Linked DNA regions of Homo sapiens. The protein of the gene in region 4 purifies or fractionates together with the protein of the main gene of each other region. This does not show direct contact. Each region holds a gene or a part of one and is shown on either strand. Other genes may lie near its edges. The genes, in order: SLC25A46, ABHD17B, LMBRD2, SLC26A6, ABCB8, MBTPS2 and ARHGDIB.

Region 1 (4,319 bases), on a different chromosome or scaffold from region 4:
GTTAATATTACTACAATGTAAAATATATATCTGAAATACACTGTTCTGTGGCACATACAGTCAATGCTACTTTAATGGTATTTCTGTATACATACTTTTCAGTGCTAAGCATGAACAGATTAATTTATAATGATTTATACTGTTTTGAACTCTAACAGCTAACAAATACAGGAAGCATTACTTTACAGAGAAAGTGGGTTATAACAGGACGGGCGCAGTGGCTCACACCTGTAATCCCACCACTTTGGGAGGCTGAGGCGGGCGGATCATGAGGTCAGGAGATCGAGACCATCCTGGCTAACACGATGAAACCCCGTCTCTACTAAAAATACAAAAAATTAGCTGGGCACGGTGGCGGGCTCCTGTAGTCCCAGCTACTCGGGAGGCTGAGGCAGGAGAATGGCGTGAACCCAGGAGGCGGAGTTTGCAGTGAGCCGAGATCATGCCACTGCACTCCAGTTTGGGCAACAGAGCGAGACTCCGTCTCAAACAAACAAAAAAAAAAAGTGGGTTATAACAGAGTTTGCAAGTGGGGTCCACTGACTCCTGAGGGCCCCATTACCCTTTCAGGGGCTTGACAAGTTCAAAATTATTTTCCTAGTGATTACTAAGATATAATTTCCTTTTTTCACTGTCTTGACATTTTCACTAATGGTACAAAAGCAATGGTAGGTAAAACTCCCAGCTCATTAGCACAAATTGAGGCAGCACCATCAAACTGTATTTTCGTACTTACAGTAATTTTTCACCTCATTTACCCATAGAGAGAAAAAAGCAACCTTCATATAGTAATATCCTTGACAATGAAGTAACAAAATGTTAATTTTATGAATCCTTGACCTTTGAGTACACATCCTCTTTCTAATTAATATCCTGTGTGTTACATAAGGAAGTAAGATTGCTGTCATGAGGAAAGCACTTGTATGATAGAACTGCAAGCTAAACTAGCCACTTTTTTCACGGAACATCATTTTTACTTAGAAAAACTCATTGACGGACTATACCTATTCACTTTCAGGACAGACATATTTTAAAAAATAAACAAAGTGAGATTGTTGATTAAAACAAAAATAAATAACAGTATTTACTGTCAATGATAAGTTTGAATTTTCAACTAAAACTCAGAATTTTGGAAAATCTATATGCATCGTCAAGAGCTGACAATACTTATAGACTTTTCTAGTGAGATCAGTAGTATTTTTAATGAAGATGATTTTTTGATATTTTATAATCAAATGTTTTAACAACAGGAAGATCTATGTAACTCAATTGGTCAATATTTTTCAAATAACTTATGCACAATTACATGGAATCAGGCATAAGTAAAAATATCTATTCAAGATGCAGTATAGTTAAATGGATTTTTTAATGTAACAAAGTATAAAAAGTTCACTAAAATGATTTCTGATTTCACATTGCAAATAACCTTTAAGAAACTGCGACACAGTGAGTTTTGGTGCAATTGCAAAGAATACCCACAATTATCTCAAAAGAATATAATATACTCCTCTCCTGCTTTCAACTATACATGTGTACAAGACTAAACTTCCTTGCTTCTTTCAAAAACCACGTGATGCAACAGATTGACTGCAGAAGCATACGAGAGAAACTGGCTCTCTCCTATTATGTCAGATATTAAAGATATTTGCAAAAATGCAAAATAGTTACTTTCATAAAAACATATTATCTTACTAACAGGTGTTATTATTTTAATGAATTATATAGATGCATTGAAATTTTCCCAATTTTAATTTCTGAAATGGTAACTATCAATAGATATGACCAACATAAACCAAAGTTATTTAGGATCCTCAATATTTTTTTAAGACTTTAAAGAGGTTTTGAGACCAAAAAGTTTGGAACATTTCACATGAAGTAACAATTACCTGGTTTCATGTCATTTATGTGAGTTCTGCCCTTCATATTAGGGTCAGAAGTATTGCTTCAAAAGATCACAGAAATTACATTTACCTGACATTGGCGGCGTAGAACAATGCAAGGATGTGCCAATACATTTTCTGTAAAGAGACTATATAAAAATAATTTATGTATATGTATGTCTACATAGAGATAAATTAAATTTACAACAGGTATCTTTCTGAAATTATTCTTGCCTGAAGAATCATGCATTATTTTATGTTTTCCATTCTTAAACAAATTAAATAGATCTTTAAAAATGTCTAGAAATGTTTGCAAATGATTCTACCCATAACGAAATTCAATATGAAAAGAATGAAAACCAGATCTGCATACTAGTAAATAAGGGAAACAATACATAATACATAATATTAATGTCTATAGTATAAGATGAAACTAGATCTCTGAATGTTTAATGTGGGAAATGGCACATCAATTAAATGGCATTTAATGCTGCAAATTATTTCTTTCAGAAAATGTCCTAATAACAGAATTCCTATCAGCAGAGTCATTTGATCTTCATGAACCCCATTCTAAAAATGTTTGGTTTTGGTGCACTTAAATTATAAGGTTTAAGTATAAATTTAAGTATAAATCTTAAATTATAAGATTCTTAATGACCATGTTAATTGACTAATATTTATGTATCAAATATTTATTTTGAGAATGTGCCCCACAAAACAATTACAGCTGTGGGTTTCAGGTCTCAGAGTGACATATACATACATGTGCACACATATTTATATGTAATAATAGTCTATCAAATGAATCAAAGCTTTAAGTATAAATATTGAAGCAAAAAACAACTCCAGCAGAATGGAAAACACAGATTTTATTTATATTGACATTAACACCCTCGGGTTTAATTATGCAAATAAGGTGTTTTTCTTCGTTAAAATGTTTAAAATAATGATCATTATGGCATGAAATGTAAGCTTTGTGCAATTCCAATATTTTTGAAAATGGTATTCACTAAGGATCACAATAATCAAGACTAAAGGATTTTCTTAAAATGATCGTTAGATATAAAAAAAAGTAATGCTATCACCAAACGCTGATTATGAACAAAATCTAGATGCTATGTTGCTAAATATCTTGTAAGCATTAGAGTGTTTAGAAAGAAGCCTCCATGCACAATTACTTTTTTGATGGGAGACAGACAGATTACATTTCATTTTATTCTTTGGATAGACCCATGAAAAGAATGAAAACCAGATCTGCAAACAGGTAAGTAAGGGAAACAATATATAATACACAATATTAATATCTACGGTATAAAATGAAACTAGATCACTGTATGTTTGATGTGGGAAATGACACGTCAGTTACATGGCATCATTAAATGCCATGTAATTTTTCTTTCAGAAAATGTCCTATGAAAAAAGTTCTTATCAGCAGAGCCATTTGATCTTCATGAACCCCATTCTAAATTATTATTTTGATGGGAGAGAGATAAGATTACACTTCATTTTATTTTTTGGATAGACCCATGAAAACAGTTACAATACTCATTACAAAATTACTTTGTGTTTATAAAATTGGATGACTAGTCTATCCTTACTGGAAAAACTATCAAATTATATATTTTAAATAATGGTCATTTTTTTTCTGCAAAATATTATTCAAAATTTAAGCTGCTGCTTCAAAGAAACAACCTAAAGGAAGCAATAATAATCATTTAATATTGTAAATTAAAGAAAAACTCTAAATTCAATAAATAAAAGCTGTAAACGTCTTTAGATAAAACATTACCTTGCAAGTCCAATACCAAATCCAGCAAATCTATTCAGCTGTTCTAAAGTAAAAAAAAATAGAAATAAAAAAATAAGATTACTGATAACCAATTACTGACAATTTAGGTTTAGTCTCAAAACAATTTTAAAAAATTTATTTTATTAACCTGCTGTTCATTTAAACCTCAAAGTCAAATTCTGATAGGGGCCAGGTAAATAATTTAAATGAATGAAGGACTCTGCTGGGGTCTGTGGCAAATTGCAAGGTGTAGAGTGTTTAAAGCACAATTACGCTTTCACTCCAATTCATTGTTGCCACATTAGAGTGTGGGCCCAGGGTTTTGAAGTTGTAATTTTTTCAAAAAAAGATATTCTCATTTTATATAAAAGCTTCCAATTTTAAAGTCCTGGACAACTATTTCAAAAACTGTTAACACATTGTCTTGGCCTAATGAAACAAATATCCGGACAGAACCTAAGGGCTACCAGTTTTCAGCTTCTGATTCCAATCAAATAAAAAATTTTCCATGGTTGGCCGCAGCTGATATTCCACCTGCGACTTTACCTCTTATGCTGTAAAACTAGTTATTCACTGTTACTGACGGAGAGCACTTTATTAAACCAATAACTACAAGTAAAGCACCTCTAAATTATTAACTTGAAAGGGTA
Region 2 (4,319 bases), on a different chromosome or scaffold from region 4:
CTTAGAATCATTCTCAGCACAACACTTCAGGAAGCCCTCAGTTAAAGTTAGCAGATGACACTTAGTTGTTATTTCTGTCCTATTTCTTGTTCCAACCAGAGTAAGCCATTAACTTATTCAGGCTGTATTTTGAAGCCTAAAAAGAAATAAAGGTAGGAAGCAATTAAAGCATTTCCTAATATCCAAGATGTTTTTCTGCCCTTCCCTCACCTTTTGAAGTCTTTTATGTTATACCTACCCTTGTTCCTCTCTTCCTGTGCTTTTTTCTGCTGCTTCTTATAAACACATTTATACTGAGCATTATAGGATATATTTGATTCTGTATTGAGTGAAAAGGGCATTTTTTCCCCCAGATATTCTCAACCATTTAGTCACTCTGTTGAGTTGTTTTCTTCCCATTTTTGGTGTAATAGGGTACTTTTTTCCCCCTATTCTTATATTTAGATTTTTTTTTTTTCTTTTTGGAGAAAATTGGATGCCACCAAACCTGTAAGGTGTTGGTTTTAAATGCCTTTTCTCTGGAACTAAGCAATGGCCTAATTTTGCTAAAAAGAGACAGGAATTTGAAAAAGGACAAGATAGAAGGAAATACTGATAGAACTAACAAGTATTACTTTATTTTTGTCCCTAAGTTAAAGTGTGACAATGATATGGCCATCACTCACCGTATGTTGTATGATGGGCCTTCACTACACCAACATTTGATATTCACAACCAGGTCCTTCAGTGTAGGTATTGGCCTTGTTTACTTATGAAGAAAATGAGAGTCAAAGAGATAGTTTGCCCAAGGACATACAGCTGGCAAACGGTAAGTGGTAGAGTTAGGATTTTACCCCAGCTTCCTAACTTTAAACCTTGTACTCTTTCTCTTCCAAACATTTAGAAAAGTTTACCTTTAGTAGATTTTACCTTTTTTCCACAATAAACTTTATATTATAGCCTTTTTAGTTTGGGCAGTAATTACATACATACATACATGCATGCATACATACATACACTTTAATGTTCTATAGGTTATTTGGGCCACTGGCACTGTGACCAAAGTGATAGTCTTCTGAGCGTGTTCTGAATCTGTGAGGCAGTGTAGCCCAGTAACATAGTGTAGTGACAGCCTGGAGTCAAATCCTGGCTCCACCACTGCCTCATCTTGTGCAAGTTTCCTTTCTCACAACAACTTACACAGTTGTTCTGAGAATTAAACCAAGTAACACACATAGAGCACTTGGCACAATGCCTGACAAATAGCTTCATAAATGCTATTAGTATGTATTCACTTTATGCTAAATTCCTAGCTTCTCCATGAGGTTCTAAGAACTTTTGCTGAGTTACATAGAAATTACAGACTACACTAAAGATATTTCATACCTTCAGGTTATTTGTAAAGAAATGGCAAATATTACCTTTATCATTTTTGACATTTATGTTAAATGAGATAATAATCACTGCTATTTGAAACCTGTCATATAGGATTTGAGTCTGTCTGCTGGTCAGGAATATTTGCCTCACCCCAGGATTTAAAGTACTTCTAGAAAGAAGCCAAAGGCCGGGCGTGGTGGCTTACTCCTTGTAATCCCAGCACTTTGGGAGGCCGAGGTGGGTGAATCACCTGAGGTCAGGAGTTCGAGACCAATCTGATCAACATGGAGAAACCCCATCTCTACTAAAAATACAAAATTAACCGGGTGTGGTGGCGCATGCCTGTAATCCCAGCTACTTAGGAGGCTGAGGCAGGAGAACCACTTGAACCCGGGAGGCGTAGGTTATGATGAGCTGAGATTGCGCCATTGCACTCCAGCCTGGGCAACAAGAGTGAAACTCCGTCTCAAAAAAAAAAAAGAAGCCAAAAATCTGTTTGGAATCATACCTAAAATAGTAATAGTCATTAACCACCAATAAAATTTACCCATGTCTGTGTTTTAACTTTTTATTGTATGAGTCTACATTCAGTTATTAAAATATTTGCTATCTCCTTTTCTTTTTCAGAGCATGAATAATCTTTCATTTAGTGAGCTATGTTGCCTCTTCTGCTGTCCACCTTGTCCAGGGAAGATTGCTTCAAAATTAGCGTTTTTGCCACCTGATCCAACTTACACACTGATGTGTGATGAAAGCGGAAGCCGTTGGACTTTACATCTGTCTGAACGAGCAGACTGGCAGTATTCTTCTAGAGAAAAAGATGCTATTGAGTGTTTCATGACTAGAACCAGTAAAGGCAACAGAATTGCTTGTATGTTTGTACGTTGTTCACCCAATGCGAAATACACTTTACTCTTCTCACATGGAAATGCTGTTGATCTTGGTCAAATGAGCAGCTTTTACATAGGACTAGGATCACGGATTAATTGTAATATATTCTCATATGATTATTCTGGATATGGTGCCAGTTCCGGGAAACCCACAGAGAAGAACCTCTATGCAGACATTGAAGCTGCTTGGCTTGCTCTTAGGACAAGGTAAATTGTGGTTGGAATTTATTTTTCATACTCGTGGTGGTTAGCTAAAAATATCTTGTGTAAGAATAGAATAAAAGCTGTTTTTATTATACATAACTGCTATATAGAGGTTATATTTACTATTATATACCTGTGAATAAATATTTTAGACAGCAATTTTAAATTTCACATAATAGCAAAACAAAGTTTTTAAAGACAGTTTCAGGTTTGTTTGTCTACATTAATACACGTATATATGTATGTTTTTTTTAACTTAAATTCTTAGCTGGAAGTCCATGGTGCATGCCTATAGTCCTAGTTACTTAGGAGACAAAGTCAGGGGAATCACTTGAGGCCAGGAGTTTGAGGCTGCAGTGAGCTATGATCGTGCCACTGCACTCCAGCCTGAGTGACAGCGTCAGACCTCATCTCTTAAAAAGTTAAAAAAAAAAAAAAATTAAATCCAGTGACAAATGTTTGGTTTTTGTAAGCTTTCTTATTGGAGTGTGATATAAAAAATGTTTATTCAAAGCTGCAACCTTTCAAGGAAATGAGAGAAAATACTGACATAGCTAATTATTCACTTGATCTGTCATTAACAGTATGAGGCTGGATTGCTTTCTATTAAAATCTTAAGCCAAGATTTGCATTATTTTATGTGATTACTTCTTGGGAAGTACAACTTAAAGATACCTTATTGGAATTATTTTTCAAGTATTCATTCTGTAAAACTGAGATTTTACTTTATATTCTGTGTTCCTAAAATTGGGAGAGATTATATCAAGTTTAAAAAAATTTTTTAGGCTGGGTGCGGTGGCTCACGCCTGTAGTCCTAGCACTTTGGGAGGCTGAGGCAGGCGAATCACAAGGTCAGGAGTTCGAGACCAGTCTGGCCAACATGGTGAAACCCCATCTCTACTAAAAATACAAAAAAAAAATGTCTGGGCGCAGTGGCTCATGCCTGTAATCACAGCACTTTGGGAGGCTAAGGCAGGTAGATCACGAGGTCAGGTATTCGAGACCAGCCTGGCCAAGATGGTGAAACCCCGTCTCTACTAAAAATACGAAAATTAGCCGGGCACAGTGGCGGGTGCCTGTAATCCCAGGTATTCGGGAAGCTGAGGCAGGAGAATCACTTGAACCTGGGAGGCGGAGGTTGCAGTGAGCTGAGATCACACCACTGCACTCAAGCCCAAGTGACAGAGTAAGACTCTGTTTAAAAAAAAAGAAGTTTTAATGTTATGATAAATTGTTTAATAAAATTTTCTTACTATGTCAGTTATTCTTTGATTATAGCAGCATACATTTTGGGGAACTAGAAATTGCATTAATCTTTTCTAGTCACCAAGATACCTAAACATTTTTCTTGAAAAAAAAATCACAATTTGGTAGACTTCAGTGTATTATTAGTCAGGTTAGTGTACAATAAACAGATACCTTAATATAGGCTATTCTTTATATTATATGAAAATAAAATATCTGACTTCCAGGATGTTTTAGACTGAAGCTATAGGATATAAAGAAAACTTACTGTTTCTAATTTAATGTTTAAATATTAAAGATTTCATTTAGTCAGGAAAAATTTCCTCAATTTTAATAATAAAGTAGTTAATATTATTAAAGATATTAAAAATATCTTTAAAACTATTTTTCCCTCCAAAGAAATGTAATAAAGTTATGCTCTCATAGCGAAGTTCTACATAAAAGGGATTCTTAAAATCAACTGAAATTATATAAAAACATAAATATGGGGAATAAGGAAAAAAAGATGGCAAGTAGTAGGTAAAGAGTTGATGGGGGATGGTAAAGTTATTGTTTAATTGATAAATTAAAAACTGCTTTAAATAAAAATCTTTTACATATATTGATATCAGTTCCATCAAGCCT
Region 3 (4,319 bases), on a different chromosome or scaffold from region 4:
ATACACAATCCATTTATAGGTTGGGTTTTTTTTTTTTCAGGTTATAGGGGTTGGGAGGGGAAAACATTAGGTAATTAATTCCTGAAAATTGTAATGCTAATTAAATCACTCACTATAACATAGCTTCTATGGAGATGCATGCTAGCAATTATACATAATTCTGTTTAAATTTTTGAAGACATGATGAGTCTCTGATCATAAATTCTGCCATGGAGCCATATTCCTAAGCTAGAAGGATATCCCAAGAACTTGCAACAATCTGTAGCTGCTGCTGATCTTTATCCAGTTTTTTTAATAGTGCTTCAAATGGAAGTAACACCTGCATTTTAAATTTACCTTTTCTGAAGTTAGATTTTTTAAAAATATGCATAAAGAAGCATGCAAATACTACTGAAAGCATTCATAAAGGCTATAGTCAACATATATAAGCTTTTTACTTAAAAGTTCGATATGAATTCAATATAATCTTTGGACAATTTGAACTTTATTAATTTTTTATGTAAATCTATAATGCTTTTGAAGGATGTGCAATATGAAAGGAATACCATAAGTTCAGAAATACTTGTCTTTATTATAACCTTGTAAATTAGGCAAAAGTGAAAATACATCCCACGTTTTTAAATCTGAGATAGGCTGAGAGGAAAAACAGGTTTTAGAAATTACATACTTGGTAAAGAAGAACCAGGACTAAAAAATCAGGACTTCTTCAAGTTTCTCACTACCGTCTACTGAAGGGCTTTGTGGACCAATAAATATTAAAAATTAGATTTAATTAGAATATGATGTAATGAAAAGTCTACTAGGAAAGAATAGAGGTGGGGAGAATTAGTAGAGAATGAGGATAACTTACATAAATATAAAGTCTGGATGGTAAAAACTTTCAATTTTTAAACAATGTGTCCCCTACAATGTTTATATATTTTTTTTAAAAAAGGAAATACCTTGGAACAGGGTTAGCAGTTGCGTACAATCCTGTAATGTTGCTATTCTCAGGAGGGCTTGAATTTGCAGCAGCATGCTTGCACCGGTTGTATATTGTCTAAAGCAACGAATGTATGGTTTAAAAATGAGAATCAAAAGGTTACCAAGTACTTAAAGGACATCAGAGTTTATAAATCTATCTATCTAAACTTACCTTCTTGGCTATGCTTTATTCTTTTTTTTTTTTTTTTCTTTTTGTGTGAGACAGAGTCTCACTCTGTCGCCCAGGCTGGAGTGCAGTGGCGCGATCTCGGCTTACTGCAAGCTCCGCCTCCCGGATTCACGCCATTCTCCTGCCTCAGCCTCCCGAGTAGCTGGGACTACAGGCGTCCGCCACCACGTCCGGCTATTTTTTTTGTATTTTTAGTAGAGACGGTGTTTCACCGTGTTAGCCAGGATAGTCTCGATCTCCTGACCTTGTGATCCGCCAGTCTGGGCCTCCCAAAGTGCTAAAATTACAGGCGTGAGCCACCACGCCCGGCCCTTGGCTATGCTTTTTAATGATCAAATGGCCATATAATCTTTTAATTCAAAACTGACATAACTTAGCTGTCTTAAGAAATAACATTATTTCCAACATGCTGTATGATTAAAATTTGTCTTTTAAATTGTGAAAATAAATTTCACTCCTTACCGTACTAACATCCAGAGGCAGTATGAAGACAATAAGAAAGCAGAGATACCAAGCAAGCAGTGTTCCAATAATCACAAGTCTATGCTGTTTCTTAAAGTCTCCATATCGATGAAGCAGAAATAATGCCAGAAAAAAGACAAAAACAATCTCAAGTCCCAAAGCTGCACCACTCATTATTGAATATTTCACTCTGACTAACCAAAGTTATTCATGTACAGGTCTGGACCATATCTATAAAGTAAAAAGAAGGTTAAAATGCATCATTAACACAGGAAATGACATTTGGAAATTTCATCTGAATATTTATTAGTACATTAATACATTAATCAACTCTTTGGAGAAATGTCATGCTTCACATTGGACTATGAATAAGATTAAAAGGGTAATTCCTATCCTCAAGTACTTATATTTTATTTTTAAAGCACACTTAAAAAATTTCACGTACCTTGTATTTTCAAAAACTTAACAAAAATTATTAGTTCTTACAATATTACAAATTAAGAAGTTCTTATTTTAGATGTGAACAGTTTTAATACAGTGTCATCTGGAGTTTGTTTCTTAATATTATAAGTCCTAACAGAATAGTTTATGCAAATAAGCTGTTAACTAAATCCTAGGAAATTAGATACTTAGTAAAATACATTTTACTAAGATTATTCATCCTCTATAATTTAAGATTTTCTAAAAGAGAGGAAGGAAAAAACGGAAAGAGACCATTTAAAAGTAACCTTTTGTTTTTTGAAATAGTATTTTTCTTTTGTGTTAATTTCACCTAACAACTCAACTTTCATGAAATTCTTACTCACTGCTTTACAAAATATATTTATCACTTCCATTTATCTACATAAATCTTTAAACTTACTTTGATAAATTCTCATTTTTAATTTTTCTACTATTTTATATGCAGAAAATTTATCAATGACTATTAAAGTCATACATTTGAAAACATTCTTAATTTTATGATACAGTCATCAGCGAATAGTTTACTTGATATCTCTCTACTCAAAAAAGTTAGAGTATAGAGATTTAAAGTCTCTATTTTAAAATTGAAAAATTTGATATCTCTCTATACTTAAAAAAATTTACTAATCAAAGGCAATATGAACTTTTTCTCCTTTGTAAAATCAATGTTAGACTTTTGTTTATCTACATACTACAGTATTTCAAGGAATTGATTAATATCCTAACACAGAGAATCAAGAGTGTGATCAACCCAACAAAATAAAATAAGGGGCAGTGGCTCACACCTGTAATCCTAGCACTTCGGGAGGCTAAGGCAGGCGGATCACCTGAGGTCAGGAGTTCATGACCAGCCTGGGCCAACATGGTGAAACACCATCTCTACTAAAAATACAAAAATTAGCCAGGTGTGGTAGCGGGTGCCTGTAATCACAGCTACTCAGTAGGCTGAGGCAGGAGAATCGCTTGAACCTGGAAGGCAGAGGTTGCAGTAAGCCGATATCGTGCCATTACACTGAAGCCTGGGCAACAAGAGCAAAATTCTGTCTCAAAATAAATAAATAAATAACAAAATAAGGGAGAACCAATGAAATACTTCAAATCAACAAACATCTTTAACTAAAACTATTTAGAATAATAGAAAAGACAATTTAAGTACTTTAAATGGTTAAATTTAAATTTATATACAAAATACTCCTACATGAACTATCACATAGAAAAATCACATTTAATGAACAATTTTCTTCACTATTTTTTATATTGGTAAACAGTTTCCATTTCAACTGTCAATATTTTCATTTTTCTTAATTATCTAAAATTGAACTTCTTTCATCAATCTCTACCCTCTTATCCTGCTATATTTTCCTTCAATGCATTTATTCATCTGATATAATACACATTCTTTATATTTATTGTCTCTCCACACCTCTCCCCTTACCCCAGAGACTCTATGAGAGCAGAGACTTGACTATTTTATTCCATACTATATTCCAGTTGTCTGATGTAGTTAGTACCTGGCATACAGTAGTATCAAGAAATATTTGTTGAAATAATAAAAAATACTGTGTAGTTTAGTACATACACTATTTTTCTATTACTGACGACTTCAAAGGCAATGTAAAACTCGTGTAATGGTAAACTGATTTAACAAATACTTATTACAACTCAAAAGGCTTAAAACTCTGAACATTACCAAATACTACTCAAATTTTCAAATTTCATATTCTATGAAACAACTTATACCACAACAAAGTCAAATCTTATGTTTTAAAAAATAGACAAGGTTTTGCCATGTTGCCTGGGCTGGTCTCGAACTCCTGAGCTCAAGTGATCCACCTGCCTCAGCTCCCAAAGTGCTGCAATTACAGGCATGCGCCACAGCGCCCAGCCAAATCTTATTTTTAAGCTAAGCATAGATTAAGTAGTTGGCTGAAAGCTCAATGCAGAATGTGCTGATAACAAAACCATCTTCGAGATCTAGGGTTTTTTTTCTTTAAAAAAACCCAATTGATGTGAGTTTAAATATAACATAATTAACTGAAAATCCTTTTATGACTTGAACTAGACCTGAAATTGTCCAGTGCAAGGAATATGACAATCATACAAAAAAAAGACTAAATATTAGAGATTACCAAAGAAATGCTAAATAAAGCATGGCAGAGCCAAATGATGAAATATTATTGTAGTATAAGAAATAATGTTTGTTAAGATTATTTAATAACATCAGAAAATTACCCTAACAGCA
Region 4 (4,319 bases):
CCCCCCACAGTGCCTCTCCCTCCCCACCTCTCCTGCCACCACCCAGGCAGGCTTCACAGGCTCTTAACCTTTCTCTTGGGTTTCCAACCCCTGCCTTGTGTTCTGTTTTCTGCACCCAGACAGAGGTCCTCCTAGGCTGTCATATCAATCAGACCTTCCCCGCTCCCACCCCATTCGGGTCACAGCCCGGGTCTCTGCTGGGCTCCAGGCATGCATGGTAAGGGCTGGGCTGCCCCCTCATCCTCTCCCATGTCTCAGACCCCTTAATTCCTCCCCGCACTGCCTAATTGCACTGTGCCCATGTTGCAGGCAACAGCCTTGTTTTATTCCAGAGCCCCCCACCTATGTTCCTAGCACTTGGCCCAAGACCTCTCAGGAGATAAATGGATGACTGAGGACTTAGTAACCCCACTGATCAGATCAGGAAATGCCTCCCTTCCAACCTGGCGCCCCAGGGAGCTGCCATTCCGGCTCTCTGACCCACGGCTGCTCTGCAGGTGGAGCTTGTGCTGTTGACTCCACGACAGACCCCTCCCCAGCCCCAGACCCATCTCTGTCCACTCTCCCTCTGTCCCTTCATACCTCTAGAGGGGGTCATAGACCTAAACTCCTCCCTTGAAATCCCAAAGACCAAAGCCAAAGTATCCTCAGCCCCCAGTTCCCTGGCCAAGTGTGGAACGAATCCACAAAGGCTCATTCTTCCTCCGTCTCCCCATCCACACCATCTCACTCAGCCCCTGACACTCACCTCTGAGTACTCTGCCACATCTCTGTAAATATCCGTGTCTGGCACCTGCCCCAGGACAGAGTAGTGGGGCCTGTGAAGGAGAGAGAGAATGCACGAAGAGGGGGCAGAAAAAGGGGATAACAGAGGGGTCCGAAGGAGCCTGAAGTCCCCAGAGATGTGGGGAAAGCTGCGGGGAGCCCTGTGGTACTCTCTCACTAGCTGGAATGAGGGGACCAACATGGCGGACTCACATCTGTGTCCGGACCACCACGAGCAGCAGGGAGAAGATGACCGCAACCACCAAGCCAAGGTCCAGGTTCAGCAAGATGGTGGCCGTGAAGGTCACCAGCCAGATAAGCTGAGAACAGAGGGCAGCGGTTGGAGGGCGGCGAGGAGCCATGGGGCTGCCCAGTCCCTGCCCTGGGCTCCCAGTGCACTCACCAGATCCGCCCGATTGGCCTTCCAGAGGGAGCGCATGTCGCTGAGCTGCCTCAGCATGCCCTTCAGGTTCACAATGATGATGGCTGCCAGGACCGCCTGGGGTGGGGACAGTGCCACCAGGGGCCATTGAGGGCACCCGATGCTGACAACCCTCCTCACCGAGGCAAAGCCAGACTAAGCCCAAGCACTCAGGCAGTACCCCAGACACAAACCCCCACCCAGCCCCTGACCCTTGTCTCCAAATCTCACCTTGAAGATCTCAGCCTTGAAAAACAGAACCTAACCTTGTGTCCCCACCCCTCGCCTGAACCTAGACTGGCTGATTTGAGAGCCCTGGCCTGGCCAAGACCTGAAACCTGGCTGGGTGGGGGCTCACCTTGGGCAGGTCATGGAAGAGTTCCCCAAGTTTGACAATGATGAGGAGGATGAAAAGGGAAGAGATGGCTCCAGCAACCTGTTCGGGGAGGGAGTGAGCAGGGGAGAGACCTCCTTCCCCAGGCAAAGCAATGTGCATGCCCACACCCATGCCCACACCCAAAGCCCACCTGCGAGTTGCCCCCGGTGCTCTCCTGTACCAGGCTCCGAGACATAGAGCAACTCACGGGGAAGCACTGGAAGATGCCTCCGATAAGGTTACTGAGGCCCAGGGCCACCAGCTCCTGACGGGGGACAGTACGGGTGTGAGAAGACTTCCTAGAAGTGGCTGGTCACTGTTCCACTGTATCTAGGCCTGTGCATCCCCAATCTCCATCCCCACCAAGTGGCCCCCAGAGACTGGATGCTGTCCCACACGTCCTGCTCTCCCACCCTCAGTCCCCCACGTGGCCTCAGCACATCTGCTGTCTCCCTGTGTCCCACCGGTTCCTCCCCCACCCGTTGCTGGCGCCTCCATACACTTGGATGCCTCCTACACATCCCGCATCACCCAGACCTGGTTGCTGTCCACCCGGTAGCCGTGCCTCAGGGCGAAGATCTTCCCCAGTGAGATGGCAATGGCAAACCCAACCACAGCGATGGTGAAGGCGCTGCCCACGAGCTTTGAGAACAGCTGGGTGTTGGGGGCCACTGGGGGCACCAGCCTGTGAGAGGTATCTGTGAGGCCAAAGCAAGGTCCTGTCCTGGCTGCCCAACCCTCCCTGACCTGATGGAGGCCAGAGCTCACCCTGCAGGGATGTTGCCCACGACATCTACCTCAAATCTGTGCTTTAGACCCATGCCATAGGAGATGCCTGTGGCCCCGATGAGCTGTGGGAGAGGACAGAGTCAGGGAGGCAGGTGCTGGCACCATGGTCAGGGGGACACATAAACCACTGTGAGGTGAGGAGGGAGATACTGGGCAAAACCTTCTTCGAGGGTGGGAAAAAGTCACGTAGGGTGAGAGACAGGCAACACCATTTCGGCTATGGGGAGATGCTGTCAGGGGCAGGAAGAAACCAACATAGGGGCTTTCTGCTGTGCCCCCCACAATACCCAAGAACCCTCCCAGCCCCCCTCCAGCTGGCCCTCAAATACAGGAGGCTGCCCACGTGGCAAGGACCCAGCCTGACCTGCCCTTCTCCCCTGCCCTCCACTCCCTGGCCCTCGAACCGTGAGCAGCTCCCCGGGTATCGGCATGGGCAGCTGCTGCTGCAGCTTGTCATTCAACAGCTTCACCACCACGAGCACCACCCCAGCCACAGCTGCAGTGACCACGGTGCCAACCTTGCTCTGGGGCAGCTTCCAGCAGACCTCCAGCACTGTCTGAGGAGAGGCCAGGTCACAGCTAGCACTCAAGGCCATGGGGCACACCTACCCCTCCCTCCCCCTACCCTCACTCACATAGATGAGGGACAGTGGCCCAGAGTGGCTGCTCAGATGGAGGCCAAACACATACTTGAGCTGTGAGACGAAGACCTGCACAGCTGCAGCTGTGGTATAGCCTCGGACAAGAGGTTCTGACAGGTAGGTGACCACGAAGCCGAAGTGGATCAGGCCCAGCCCCACCTGTGGGGCGGCCAGGGGCAGTCAGGAGAGGCAGGGGTCCTGGGGTTGCTAATGAGGAGCGCAGGGCAAGTGGGATGGGAGGGGGATGAGTAGACGGCAAGAGGAGGACGACGATGGTCAGACACTCAGGGGAGTACAGACAGGACAGTGGCGGGAGCAGAAGTGGTGGTGGGGGGCACATACTCCTGACTGTTCCACACCTGGAAGAGGCCAACCAGGACACTGAGTGTGGAGGCCACCTGTACCCGGGCAGCATCTCTGGCTGTCTCATTGATCATGGAGTCGTTCAAGGCCTGCGGGGCCAGGGATTCTGTCACACTGCCCACCATCACAGACATGACAGCAAAGGTCCCTGTAAGGACGGCACGGGGCAGGTCTGAAGAGGAGAGGACACTGCCCTGCCCTGGAGCCCTGGTCTTAAGAGAGAGGCCAGGAGACTTCCAGTTCTGGATAAATGTACTCAGATTATGGCTGCATGAACAGGGACAGTGCTGGCGGTTCAGGTTTGGCCAGGCCAGGAGTAAACCCTGAGCTCACAGGCCCTTAAGCATGGCTAGAAATGCTGGCCCTGTCTCATCTACCCTGTCCCACCTGTGTCTACTGGTCCCGGGACACAGAGGCTCTCTGTGGAGTAGGGAAGGGGTCAGGGCTGGCCTTAGGCTGCTCAGGCCTCTGCCAAGTTCCAGGCCCCTTGGGCTGCCTCACCCACTCTCATCTTCCTGGAGCCAGGGCTTTGAGGTCACCTGCCTCTGTGGTCCTACAGTCAGGGGTCTAGTCCTGCCTGGGGATGACTCGTGGGCTAGCCCAGGGATGCAGCACCAATGCTGCCCTCTTCCCCAGCCGCTCCTGCCCTGCTCAGTGCCCCCTCACCCTGCCCTCCATGATGGATGTGGGCATCCTCCTGGAAGGCTAGGCCTGCCTCCACTTACCCACGGAGATGTGCCGGGAAGTGCCAAACAGGAAGTAGATGAAGACAGGGTAGAAGGAGCTATAGAGGCCAAACACGGGGGGCAATCCAGCCAGGAGGGCGTAGGCCAAGCCTAGGGGTAGAATGGTAGCAGTGCAGGCCTGGAGAGCAGATCTTGAAACGATAAGGGAATCCCAGCCCTGGGTTAGGTGCCATAGTTCCAAGGTAGAGGTCATGGCCCCAGTTTTGGGCATCACAGAC
Region 5 (4,319 bases), on a different chromosome or scaffold from region 4:
GAGGGAGTCAGTCGCCAGTCTAGGGAAGTGAGGTCCTAGCAAGGGTGTGGGAAGAGCCTAGGTTTGAATTCCCAGGCCCACTTCCAGACCCTGATTTTTAAAAATTCCCTGGAGCTACTGTAGGCCTGGCCAATTTGAAGCTGCTGGGTGGGGCAGGGAGACTGGCCAGAACGTCTCTTGAGAGGTCTGGAGGGGTCTGGGCAAAGGGAGAATAGAGTGGAGGTGTCTCGTGGAACTCTGTCTCTGCCCATTGCAGCCCAATGACTCTGGCAGACTCTGGTGGGAGGGAGGCAGCCGGCAGGACTGGGGAGGGGAGGGAGGGATTGGCCTCCCCTGCCAGCTGCTCGGCCCCGGCTTTATTGTGAGCAGGAGCAGCCGCAGCGACTCTCCACATGCTGGCCCTCCTGGGGGCTCAGTCCCCAGTAGGCTCCCCCAGGCTGAGCCCCAGCCCTAACACTGATGCTTGGCAGCGACCACACCTCAGGGGGCCCTTCTCAGGACTTGTGCTGGTGGCTCCTGGGGCCTTCTGGCTTTTTGGGCGGTGGGGCCGCTGTCCTCGGGGCATCCAGGGCCTGCCTCCGGATGAGCTCGGCGTATAGCCCGCCTTTCTTCAGGAGCTCTTCATGTGTCCCAGCCTGGAAGATGGGAGGGAAGGGCGGATGGTTGCTCCAAGGCATGCAGGCTTCAGAACCCTCAGAGAGCTGAGCCTCTCTATCAGCCATTGGGCCCATGGTCACTTAGGCCGGTGTCCCTTCTGGGGACACTCTGAAACCAATGCCCAATCTGAAAGGAACCGCCACTGGCATGCTGCATTAGTTACTGCCACTTCCTTACTTAGCTGAATTTTGGAAGAACATGATTCCCTCTGTCCCCCTTACAGAGCCCAAGGCTCCAACTCAGGATCCGTCTCCCTGCACGAGCCCCTCAGCCTTGGCTTGAATGAGTGGCTGTTAGCCAACGCCACACGGCCTCTGGGGTCCTACTCCTGACTCCCTGCACAGGTTCCTTGGCGCTGCTTCTCCTGCACCTGATACCCTGGGCAGCTAGCCCTGCTCCTTGCTCCCAGCACCATACTCTGAGTATGTTTCCTTTTTGTTTTTTGAGACAGGGTCTCATTCTGATGCCAGGCTGGAGCGCAATGGCACAATCATTGTTCACTGCAGCCTCAACCTCTGGGGCTCAAGTAATCCTCCCGCCTCCGCCTCCAGAGTAGCTGGGAGTACAGGTGCATGCCACCACATCCGGCTAATTTTTTTTTTTTGGTATTTTGTAGAGACAGGGTCCCGCTATGCTGCCCAGGCTAGCCTCAAGAGATCCTTCTGCCTTGGCTTCCCAAAGTGCTGGGATTACAGGCACCCGGCTAGTACTTTTCCTTTTGATCCTGGGAGCTGATGGTGCAATTATACTATCCCAGGGGACAGAAGAAGAAACTGAGGGCCTGAGAGGCCAGGGCTTGGCTGAATGCAGGAACTCCTGACTCTATATGGGACGCTGCTTCCAGAATATAGCCCCCAAGGCCCTGGGGCCAGGCCACAACTTCATATAACTCATTGCAGCATTGTGCCACTGTCCGTGATGAAGCCATCCTCAACCCACTGATCCACGCCCCCAGGACAACTAACCTCCCAGACACGGCCATCGGCCATGACGACAATGCAGTGGGCCCCACGGACAGTGCTGAGCCGGTGGGCAATTACCAGCACCGTGCGGCCTGCACTGGCCCGGTCCAGGGCCTCCTGTACAACCCGCTCGGACTCTGCATCCAGCGCGCTGGTAGCTTCATCCAGTATCAGCACCGTGGGCTGCTTGATAAGGGCTCGGGCGATGGCCAGGCGCTGCTTCTGGCCCCCAGACAGGGTAGTGCCCCGTTCACCTGGGAAGGGAGGGGCAGGGCAGGAGCCTGAAGCTGTGCACTTGAGGGTGGCCCACAAAGGGGCACAGGGTCCTTCCTGAACGCCCATCAAGATCCTCTAAGTGCCCCTCTCAGCACTGTGCACCCTCCTCCTGCCTCTGACCCCCACCCCGCACTGTGCATCCTCCTCCTGCCTCTGACCCCCCACCCCACACCGTGCACCCTCCTCCTGCCTCTGACCCCCACCCCGCACTGTGCACCCTCCTCCTGCCTCTGACCCCCCACCCCGCACTGTGCACCCTCGTCCTGCCTCTGACCCTCTACCCCGCACTGTGTACGCTCGTCCTGCCTCTGACCCTCCACCTTGCACTGTGCACCCTAGTCCTGCCTCTGACCCTCCACCCCACACTGTGCACCCTAGTCCTGTCTCTGACCCTCCACCCCGCACTGTGCACCCTAGTCCTGTCTCTGACCCTCCACCCCACACTGTGCACCCTAGTCCTGTCTCTGACCCTCCACCCCGCACTGTGCACCCTAGTCCTGTCTCTGACCCCCACCCCGCACTGTGCACCCTCCTCCTGCCTCTGACCCCCCACCCCACACTGTGTACACTCCTCCTCTGGGTTCCCCCTGCACTGGCTCATCCCACCTCTGGGTCCCTCAGCCACTGTGCACACTTGCCCTGCCTCTGAGGGTGGTGTGACACCGCCAGCAGGGCTTGGTGCACTCCAAGGGAGTTGCCAAATGCCCCTCCCCAGCCATGGCAGTGCCTCAGGCCAGGATGACCCACACCCTGCCCTGTGCCTGCAGTTCCAAGCCACCTTCCCAGCCTCCCGGGTCTCTGTGGCTGTGGGGAACATCCAGCACCCAAACATGGGCTCTGGGGTCCAGTGACTCCAGGGAGGTGGGATTCGAAGCCCACAGAGGACAGCACAAGTGGCAGCCTGGGAGCCAAAAAGAACCTCAAGGTGACAGCAGGGTGACAGGTCAGTAAGGACGCAGCCCCAAGAAGGCCCAAATGAGCAGAAAGTACTAGGATCAGAGACACAAGGAAAGTGCCACCCAAAAGAGATGTGGGAGAGCACCCAGTGAGGACAGCTGGCATCTGGACAGTGTATCAACACGGCTGGAGGAGCCATCTAGAACACGATGGCTGGGCTGGGGACACTGGCCCCACAGCTCAGAAGGCTGGACTCAGACTGACCAGAGTTGAGAAGCCCAGGTATCCCTGTATCCTGAGAAGTGCTGAAACACTGTGCAACAGAGCCAAGACACTGGCCGAGAAACATGGCCCCGAAGGCTGGAAAAAGACCTGGGAGCTCCGCACGTCAAGCTGCAAGGTGCACGCCCTGCAGTGCCAGGCTGCGTGTTCCTAGTTCAGAACCACCAGAGCCCTCTCCTGGGGCCCATCCAGTCACCCCGATTCTAATGAGAAACGACTTTAGAGATGAAAAGCACAGGAAGGAAACAGGAGCCAGAGGGGGATGGATGGTGGAGAGGAGGCAGCCCCCCATTTCTTCTGTTCAGTCTGGGGAAGTGGCGGCCTTTTAGACTCGGTGAGGACTCCAAACACCATGCATCACTGTGTCCCTGGCCAGGAGCCTGTCATATGCCCTCTGTCGCATTCTCCAGCTCCTCCTAGAGCCCGTCCTGTCTCTGCAGCCTGCCTGGTCTGCTGGTTCTGAACCACACTGGCCTGGACTCCCCTGTCCCCACACAACGACTCTGTCCCCTTTGGCTGTGGTTCTCGTCTTCCCTGACACAACTGTCTTTCTCCCCAGCTGTCCCTGCTGCCCTCAGTCCCACTGGGCTGCTCACTGCTCCTGTGGAATCCTGTGTCCCAGTGCCTCACCACCTGGTTCCCGGCAGACCCGAGCACCCACCGACGACCGTGTTGTAGCCCTCGGGGAAGCTGGTGATGAACTCGTGAGCATTCGCTTCCCGGGCGGCTGTGTACACCTCTTCATCGGAAGCTTCCAGCTTCCCAAAGCGGATGTTTTCCATGATGGTCGTCCCAAACAGGACGGGCTCCTGTGGGTGAGGGGTTATGGAGACAGAGTCCATAGAAACATTCTCTTTGCCCCAGAAACTGGAGGGGCCACCATACACAATGGGACAGTCTATCTGGTGGATTAGATTAGGATCTCTTGAAGAATCAGACGTTCAAAGTCAGAGGTGAAGTGAGGATGCAGAGTGGCCCCCAAAAGGGAAGGACAGTTCGACTTCCTACCAAGGGCCCAGAATCCCTCCCCAGGAGTGGGAGTGGGAGGAGCTGGCAGGGCAGGGCGCTGGGAGTTGGGGGCTTGCATTTGCCTTTCTTCTGCACAGGCACTCTCCCTGGCGGACAGCAGGCATGCCCTCTTCATTCACGGCCCTCAAAGGGAAGGGTGGACCCTCGCTGGGCAGTGCCACCTCAAGCAGAGGGAGAACGGCTGCAGCTCAGCACCTCCACTATAGGCTTCTCTAG
Region 6 (3,500 bases), on a different chromosome or scaffold from region 4:
TACTGAGACTTCTTTTTCCTTAAAATTGACACCTAATGTCCAAAACTAAGACTAAAGAAGGTTATATATATCCCCACCAATAATTGGGTCCACGCACCTCTTTCAGAGCTTATTAAATGGTATAGAACTAACTAGTCCCGCTATCCCAAACATCACCTAGCCCATTAACTTCTCATTCCCAGTTGTGAGTTGTCAGCCTAGTAGACAGCTGAACAGCTTTGCCCTGCCGTCTTTCCCAGGCAAGGGGGCAAGGTTAGGGGTGGGGAGGAGATGCTTATCTTGCCCTGAATTCAAGACAGGACAAATTCAAAGATCTGGAATTGTCTCTAAAAAGAAGAGTTTAGTATCCCTGCTAAATGTTTGCTGAGCTGTGAGCTCACCGTGGTGTAGCCATCAAAGTGGAAGACAACGTGGGAAACCTGTGTGTTCCTCAAAGTTTAGGGATGTACATAAATTATGTATTTAGAGGGAGAGAGAAATATGTGTGTACCCTCTGCCTACTTTATTGGTTTTAAATTTAGGAATATAATTTCATTGCTTCTAAAATGTCTTCCCACTTCCATGTAAAAAGTCCAGGGTGTCATTTAAATCTAGTTTTTTGTTTTGTTTTGTTTTGTTTTTTGTTTGTTTGTTTGAGACGGAGTTTTGCTCTTGTTGCCCAGGCTGGAGTGCAATGGCACGATCTTGGCTCACTGCAACCTCCGCCTCCTGAGTTCAAGTGGTTCTCCTGCCTCAGCCTCCGAAGTAGCTGGGATTACAGGCACCTGCCACCACACCCAGCTAATTTTTTATGTTTTTTTAGAGATGGGGTTTCACCACGTTGGCCAGGCTGGTCTCGAACTCCTGACCACAGGTGATCCACCCGCCTCAGCCTCCCAATAAATCTAGTTTTATAATGCTACTTTTAAAGAGTTGCATATATAGGCCAGGTGTGGTGACTCACGCCTTTAATCCCAACACTTTGGGAGGCTGAGGTGGGCAGGTTACTTGAGCTCAGAAGTTTGAGACCAGCCTGGGCAACATGGCAAGATTCCGTCTCTACTAAAAATACAAAAAATTAGCTGAGCATGGTGGTGCATGCCTGTGGTCCCAGCTACTCAGGAGGCTGAGGTGGGAGGATGGCTTGAGCCTGGGGGGCAGAGGTTGCAGTGAGCAGAGATTGTACCACTGCACTCCAGCTGGATGACAGAGTGAGAACTCTGTTTCAAAAGCAAAATAAGTTGTATATGTAATAGGTTTTTTTCTTTTTTTCTTTCTTTCTTTCTTTTTTTTTTTTTTTTCTGAGACAGGATATCACCCTGTCACCCAGGCTGAAGGGCAGTGGTACAATCACCGCTCACTGCAGCCTCGACCTCCTGGGTTCAAGTGATCATCCCACTTCTCAGTCTCCCAAGTCGCTGGCACCACAGGTGTGCACCACCACACCCAGCTAATTTTTGTATTTTTTGTAGAGAGGCGGGTCTTGCCATGTTGCCCAGGCTGGTCTCAAACTCCTGGGTTCAAGAGATACAACCACCTCGGCCTCCCAAAGTGCTGGGATTACAGGCATGAGCTAGAGCTACCACACGGGGCTATTTCTTTAAAAAAAAAAAAATGAAATATATACTGATTTTGAAAAGAAAAAGCCACTAAACATCTGTCTGAAATTTGGTGGGGAAAAAAGAGAGATGAGATGAGATACTTCCTGAGCACACTGTAAATGAAGATGTTTAAATTTTGAATTATGGTGTATAGAATTTTTAGAAGAGGGATTAAACAATACCTGCTATCTGGTTCCAAGTGAAGAGTAGATTGCTTTAAAAAAATTCTCTATGCTTTGTTGCTAAAAATTCCTTTATAAATAGTGGAAGTAAAATTTGACCATTCTGTTTCTATACTTAAATGTTTTTAAATCCTTCTTAAATATTGAAAACCCTGTTCTTATTTGTATAAGCCAGTTGTAAGTTTATTTGAGGGCAAAGTAAAAAACATTGGTGATAAAAGTGATGTTGTGATTATAGTAAGCTGGAATTTAAACTTAGAACACAGTGTAAGCCTTGCCAAATTGATAGTTTACATTCTTTCAGCTATAACTACTGTGAGTTATTCAAGGAATATTGAGTTGTTATTTTACCTATTCAGTCATCTGGTGACCTGTAAATCATTTCTGTGTGTTTAGAGAATTAAGGTAGTTGTGGTTTTTTTTTATTATTATTTGCAAACCACACTAAGCATAAGTAGGGCTTGATTGGGGTAGCCCTTAGCCCCCGCTTAATAATAATCACCAGCTTCAAGTCTATGGGTATCTTGCTGCCTTGATGACAACTATAGATTTTCTTCTCCCTTGACCCATGATTTTTGTTTGTTTGTTTGTTTTGTTTTTTTGTTTCTTTGAGACAGAGTATCTTTCTGTCACCCAGGCTGGTCTCAAACTCCTGGTCTCAAGTGATCTGCCCACCTCAGCCTCCCAAAATGCTGGGATTACAGGCATGAGCCACCGTGCCCGGCCCCATGATATTTTTAAACCCTGAGTCTCCCATATTCTGATTTTTCTACTGTTGCCCCAGTCTCATTGCTTAGTATATAAACCAGAATAAAATTGATCCTCAATTCCATCTAAGTCCTACTGTTTCTTGGCTGTTGTTTTATTAAAATCATGAAGAAAGCAAAAAAGGCATTCCATCACAACTATTGAAAAGTGTTCTAGAAGTTACAGTCATTGCTATAAGACCAAACAGGAAGGAAAAGATGAGGTATGAATGTTGGAGGAGATAAATGATTATTATTAGCAAATAATGGAAAATCCAAGAGAATAAAGACTAAGACATCCTAAATGGAAAGTTCAGTTTGGTGATTAATTACAAAGTAAATATACAAAAATAAATGTAGTATTCCTGTGTATCTGAAAGAAACAGATCATGTAATAGGAAGAAAAGATCTCATTCAGAAAGTAATGTGACATATAAAAAATAAAAAACTAACATTTTAAAAGAAGTACACAGGGCCTATATAGAGAAACTACAAATCTGTACTGAGAGATGTAGAAGATTTCAGTAAACAGATGTCGTGTTCCTATGTCAGAAATGTAAAATTATGGATTTACCCCTAGTTATTGCAGTCATTGCAGTGACATTAGAAATCCTAATGTGGGCCAGGCGTAGTGGCTCACACCTGTAATCCTAGCGCTTTGGGAGGCCGAGGTGGGCGGATCACTTGAGGTCAGGAGTTCAAAACCAGTCTGGCCAACATGGTGAAACCCTGTCTCTACTAAAACTACAAAAAAATTAGCCGGGCGTGGTGGTGGGCGCCTGTAATCCCAGCTACTCGGGAGGCTGAGGCAGGTGAATCACTTGAACCCAGGAGGCAGAGGTTGCAGTTAGCTGAGATCTCGCCACTGGGCAACAGAGCGTGACTCTGTCTCAAAAAAAAAAAAAAAGAAAAAAAGAAAAAAAATCCTAATTTGAATAATATTTGGTGGTTGTCAAAATGATTCTCAAATTTATCAGAAAGGATAAGGGGAG
Region 7 (3,890 bases), on a different chromosome or scaffold from region 4:
TTCCTTCCCACCTGCAGGTGAACAGGGATATTGTGTCAGGCCTGAAATACGTTCAGCACACCTACAGGACTGGGGTGAAAGGTAAGGGAACCCACATTTCCACACTGTCCCAAACTGCTTCTCATTGATACTTTAACTTCTGGTTATTAGCAACTTTTAGCTATAGACTCAGATGAGAATACAATAAAAGCTGTGGATGCCGGCTCTAGGAAAAGGCACAAATACACCTCTGATATAGACATTGACAAGGCCAATGCTCAGGGGACCTCGTTTAGACTGCATCAGCTGCTAACGTTCAGCAGTCAGCTTTTTGGATTCAATATTATCACTCGTAAAGGAGAAGAGTAACCAAGATAAGTTTAAAGGAAATAAAGTATATAAAAATACTCTACAAAGTAAACAACCAAAAAAGGCAGTTCACAGGTACAAAACCCAAGTGTCAGAGAAAACCAAGAAAGAAAAAACTTGCCCAGTGCCATGTGTATCTGGGGTGGGAGTAGGTGGGGGTGGCATTGGAGGGAAGGGGGAGGCAATGCTCAATTTCCTAACAAAGAAATAGAAAAAAAAATATTTTCTAGGATTGAAAAAGCCTGTCTAATTAAAATAACACAACAACATTACTTAATCTGCAATTCTTCTTGTCATGCCTTGGGACCCTGCCTTCAATTTTCTTTCATTAATATAGGCAGGGAGAAATGAGAGGCGGGAAGGTGATGGAGGCACTTTACAGTTCCTTTCTACCTAAGGGTCTGTCCCCTCCAGAGGCAAGAAACAACAAAGCATGTCTCAGTTTCCACCAAATTAATAAGCAAGATAGGGGAGAAATTGTCTGATAAATCTGGATGACATAGAGGACCAGTCAATTTCTCAAATCCCAGAGAAGACCATTGACCTGAAAGATATTGATTGGCCTTTCCGATACCTAGTCTCATGAAAAAAAAGTTTAATTTCCTATTTTCCTTTGGGCATAAAGCCCGTATCACCTCACTTAGACAAAAGGACAGTGACATGTCTGCAACTGTTTTTTCAAACTTATTAGCAACACTTAGCCAACTATATGCCACCTATCTGCCTATGTATACTTTTCAATGCCCAACTATTCTTAATATATATTCCAGTTAACCACCTATAAATAAACTTGATTGGCTATTTTCACCATTTGTCCTAGTTCTTCACTTTTTTTTTTACCAACTTACTGCTGTTGTTGTTCCATCCAGTTATTCTATCCATGAATTCTCATCACCATCTGTTACTTTATCTCCCCCAACTGATATGTTCATAGAATGACAGTTTGTAGATAGAAGATCCTTAAAGTCCATCATATACACAAAGAAATGGAGGCTCAAAAATGTTATATGACTTAGGCCATTGCAGGACTGAGATCAGAACTGAGGTCTCAATTTGTCTGAGTTTTTTAAAATGGTGTAATCTGCTATATCTCCATAAAAAAAACAACAACAACAACAAAAAAAAAAAAAACAGGCTTAATCCCCATTGATTTAGGCCACTGGTTCCCCAACTTTACCTCAGAATCAACTTTGTAGTTTTTTAAAAACACTGATCCCTGGGACCCACAGAAGGTTACTGAACCATAGCCTTTGGAAGTAGGACAAAGGAAACTATATTATTAAAAGGCACTCCAACTTAAAAAATGTTTTAAAGAATAATTTTTTTAAAAAGATGCCTCAGGGCCAGGTGCGGTGGCTCACACCTGTAATCCCAGTACTTTGGGAGGCCGAGGCGGGTGGATCACCTGAGGTTGGTAGTTCGAGACCAGCCTGACCAACATGGAGAAACCCCGTCTCTACTAAAAATACAAAATTAGCCAAGCATGGTGGCGCATGCCTGTAATCCCAGCTGCTCGGGAGGTTGAGGCAGGAGAATCACTGGAACCTGGGAGGTGGAGGTTGTGGTGAGCCGAGATTGTGCTTCCGCACTCCAGCCTGGACAACAAGAGCAAAACTCCATCTTAAAAAAAAAAAAAGATGCCTCAGGTAAATCTAATGTTTATTTAGGCTTGGAAACCATTGCTCTTGACTTTAATCACTGTAGGCTGTAGTCCAGATTCTCCAGTTTGCAGTGTATGTTTTTCCTCTATCAGGCTCTTACCCTAATGAACTCTTCTTTCTTCTTAGTGGATAAAGCAACATTTATGGTTGGCAGCTATGGACCTCGGCCTGAGGAGTATGAGTTCCTCACTCCAGTTGAGGAGGCTCCCAAGGGCATGCTGGCGCGAGGCACGTACCACAACAAGTCCTTCTTCACCGACGATGACAAGCAAGACCACCTCAGCTGGGAGTGGAACCTGTCGATTAAGAAGGAGTGGACAGAATGAATGCATCCACCCCTTTCCCCACCCTTGCCACCTGGAAGAATTCTCTCAGGCGTGTTCAGCACCCTGTCCCTCCTCCCTGTCCACAGCTGGGTCCCTCTTCAACACTGCCACATTTCCTTATTGATGCATCTTTTCCCACCCTGTCACTCAACGTGGTCCCTAGAACAAGAGGCTTAAAACCGGGCTTTCACCCAACCTGCTCCCTCTGATCCTCCATCAGGGCCAGATCTTCCACGTCTCCATCTCAGTACACAATCATTTAATATTTCCCTGTCTTACCCCTATTCAAGCAACTAGAGGCCAGAAAATGGGCAAATTATCACTAACAGGTCTTTGACTCAGGTTCCAGTAGTTCATTCTAATGCCTAGATTCTTTTGTGGTTGTTGCTGGCCCAATGAGTCCCTAGTCACATCCCCTGCCAGAGGGAGTTCTTCTTTTGTGAGAGACACTGTAAACGACACAAGAGAACAAGAATAAAACAATAACTGTGTGTGTTCTGGCTGAGACCTTCATTTCCCTGCTTTCTTGCTTTGAACAAATATGATAACTGGATGGTTCACATTCATGAGTTCCCTCAGAGGGGATGGGGATGAGGAAAACACACTGGAGGAGATATTTACATCTTTGGGAACAAATTGGTCCCCTATTACACTATAATAGGCAATGCACATTCAGAATACAGCCAGTGGGAAATCTACATTTTACTTATTTAGTTAGCTATTTTTAATTTCGACTTTTATATTAGGTATAGAGGGTACATGTGCAGGTTCGTTACATGGGTATATTGCATCCAGGTAGTGAGCCTAGTACTAAATAGATAGTTTTTCAAAAAATGCCCCACTCCCTCCCTTACCCCTCAGGTAGTCCACAGTGTCTACTGTTTCTATGTTCATGTCTATGTGTGTTCAGTGTTTAGCTCCCACTTATAACTGAGAACATATGGAAGTTGGTTTTCTGTTTCTGCATTGCTTTGCTTAGGATTATGGCCTCCAGCTTCATCCATATTGCTGCAAAGGACATGATTTTACTTTTTTATTATGACCATATAGTATATCATGGTATATATGCACCACATATTTTATCCAATCCACCATTAATGGGCAACTACATTAATTCCGTGTCTTTGCTATTGTGAATGGCACAACAATGAACATACATGTGCATGTCTGTTTGGTACAACAATCTACTTTCCTTTGGATATATACATAGTAATGGGGTTGCTGAATCAAATGGTAGCTCTGTTTCAAGTTTTTTGAGAAATCTTCAAACTGGTCACTCTCCATACGTTCGTAAAAATATTATGCCTTGGAATGCTAACGTTACTCCTAAAAATTGGAGTACTCTCCTTGGCCTTACTGTAGAGATAAAAGGTATAGATGTCCTCATTACTTAGAGTTGCTTTCCACAGTGGCTGAACTACGTAACTGCTTAAGCTACATCCCCATGAATAATGTATAAGCATTCCCTTTTCTCTGCAGTCTCACAGTGTCTGTTGTTTTTTGATTTTTTAATAATGGCCATTCTGACTAGTGTGAGATTGTATCTCATTTTGGC

Evidence for each region.
Region 1: the proteins of SLC26A6 (region 4) and SLC25A46 purify together in Homo sapiens (affinity purification with mass spectrometry; one large-scale study listed by BioGRID and IntAct). This does not show direct contact.
Region 2: the proteins of SLC26A6 (region 4) and ABHD17B purify together in Homo sapiens (affinity purification with mass spectrometry; one large-scale study listed by BioGRID and IntAct). This does not show direct contact.
Region 3: the proteins of SLC26A6 (region 4) and LMBRD2 purify together in Homo sapiens (affinity purification with mass spectrometry; one large-scale study listed by BioGRID and IntAct). This does not show direct contact.
Region 5: the proteins of SLC26A6 (region 4) and ABCB8 purify together in Homo sapiens (affinity purification with mass spectrometry; one large-scale study listed by BioGRID and IntAct). This does not show direct contact.
Region 6: the proteins of SLC26A6 (region 4) and MBTPS2 purify together in Homo sapiens (affinity purification with mass spectrometry; one large-scale study listed by BioGRID and IntAct). This does not show direct contact.
Region 7: the proteins of SLC26A6 (region 4) and ARHGDIB purify together in Homo sapiens (affinity purification with mass spectrometry; one large-scale study listed by BioGRID and IntAct). This does not show direct contact.

What each region holds. Positions count from the first base shown.
Region 1 is NC_000005.10:110,741,440-110,745,758, reverse strand, and holds part of SLC25A46 (mitochondrial outer membrane protein SLC25A46), read right to left. Parts: intron 3,713-4,319; coding exon 3,670-3,712; intron 2,030-3,669; coding exon 1,972-2,029; intron 1-1,971. UniProt on the Homo sapiens protein: Transmembrane protein of the mitochondrial outer membrane that controls mitochondrial organization.
Region 2 is NC_000009.12:71,872,748-71,877,066, reverse strand, and holds part of ABHD17B (alpha/beta hydrolase domain-containing protein 17B), read left to right. Parts: intron 1-1,983; 5' UTR 1,984-1,986; coding exon 1,987-2,453; intron 2,454-4,319. UniProt on the Homo sapiens protein: Hydrolyzes fatty acids from S-acylated cysteine residues in proteins. Has depalmitoylating activity towards DLG4/PSD95. Has depalmitoylating activity towards GAP43. Has depalmitoylating activity towards MAP6. Has depalmitoylating activity towards NRAS.
Region 3 is NC_000005.10:36,141,561-36,145,879, forward strand, and holds part of LMBRD2 (G-protein coupled receptor-associated protein LMBRD2), read right to left. Parts: intron 1,847-4,319; 5' UTR 1,790-1,846; coding exon 1,616-1,789; intron 1,040-1,615; coding exon 942-1,039; intron 1-941. UniProt on the Homo sapiens protein: Recruited to ligand-activated beta-2 adrenergic receptor/ADRB2, it negatively regulates the adrenergic receptor signaling pathway. May also regulate other G-protein coupled receptors including type-1 angiotensin II receptor/AGTR1.
Region 4 is NC_000003.12:48,628,894-48,633,212, forward strand, and holds part of SLC26A6 (solute carrier family 26 member 6), read right to left. Parts: intron 4,192-4,319; coding exon 4,081-4,191; intron 3,504-4,080; coding exon 3,352-3,503; intron 3,200-3,351; coding exon of another isoform or gene 3,152-3,199; coding exon 2,987-3,151; intron 2,909-2,986; coding exon 2,756-2,908; intron 2,414-2,755; coding exon 2,331-2,413; intron 2,248-2,330; coding exon 2,100-2,247; intron 1,828-2,099; coding exon 1,714-1,827; intron 1,623-1,713; coding exon 1,545-1,622; intron 1,265-1,544; coding exon 1,169-1,264; intron 1,086-1,168; coding exon 979-1,085; intron 819-978; coding exon 749-818; intron 1-748. UniProt on the Homo sapiens protein: Apical membrane anion-exchanger with wide epithelial distribution that plays a role as a component of the pH buffering system for maintaining acid-base homeostasis.
Region 5 is NC_000007.14:151,041,525-151,045,843, reverse strand, and holds part of ABCB8 (mitochondrial potassium channel ATP-binding subunit), read right to left. Parts: intron 3,884-4,319; coding exon 3,736-3,883; intron 1,874-3,735; coding exon 1,623-1,873; intron 636-1,622; coding exon 495-635; 3' UTR 1-494. UniProt on the Homo sapiens protein: ATP-binding subunit of the mitochondrial ATP-gated potassium channel (mitoK(ATP)). Together with pore-forming subunit CCDC51/MITOK of the mitoK(ATP) channel, mediates ATP-dependent potassium currents across the mitochondrial inner membrane.
Region 6 is NC_000023.11:21,863,617-21,867,116, forward strand, and holds part of MBTPS2 (membrane-bound transcription factor site-2 protease), read left to right. Parts: intron 1-3,500. UniProt on the Homo sapiens protein: Zinc metalloprotease that mediates intramembrane proteolysis of proteins such as ATF6, ATF6B, SREBF1/SREBP1 and SREBF2/SREBP2.
Region 7 is NC_000012.12:14,940,967-14,944,856, reverse strand, and holds the end of ARHGDIB (rho GDP-dissociation inhibitor 2), read left to right. Parts: intron 1-17; coding exon 18-81; intron 82-2,135; coding exon 2,136-2,335; 3' UTR 2,336-2,826; downstream 2,827-3,890. UniProt on the Homo sapiens protein: Regulates the GDP/GTP exchange reaction of the Rho proteins by inhibiting the dissociation of GDP from them, and the subsequent binding of GTP to them. Regulates reorganization of the actin cytoskeleton mediated by Rho family members.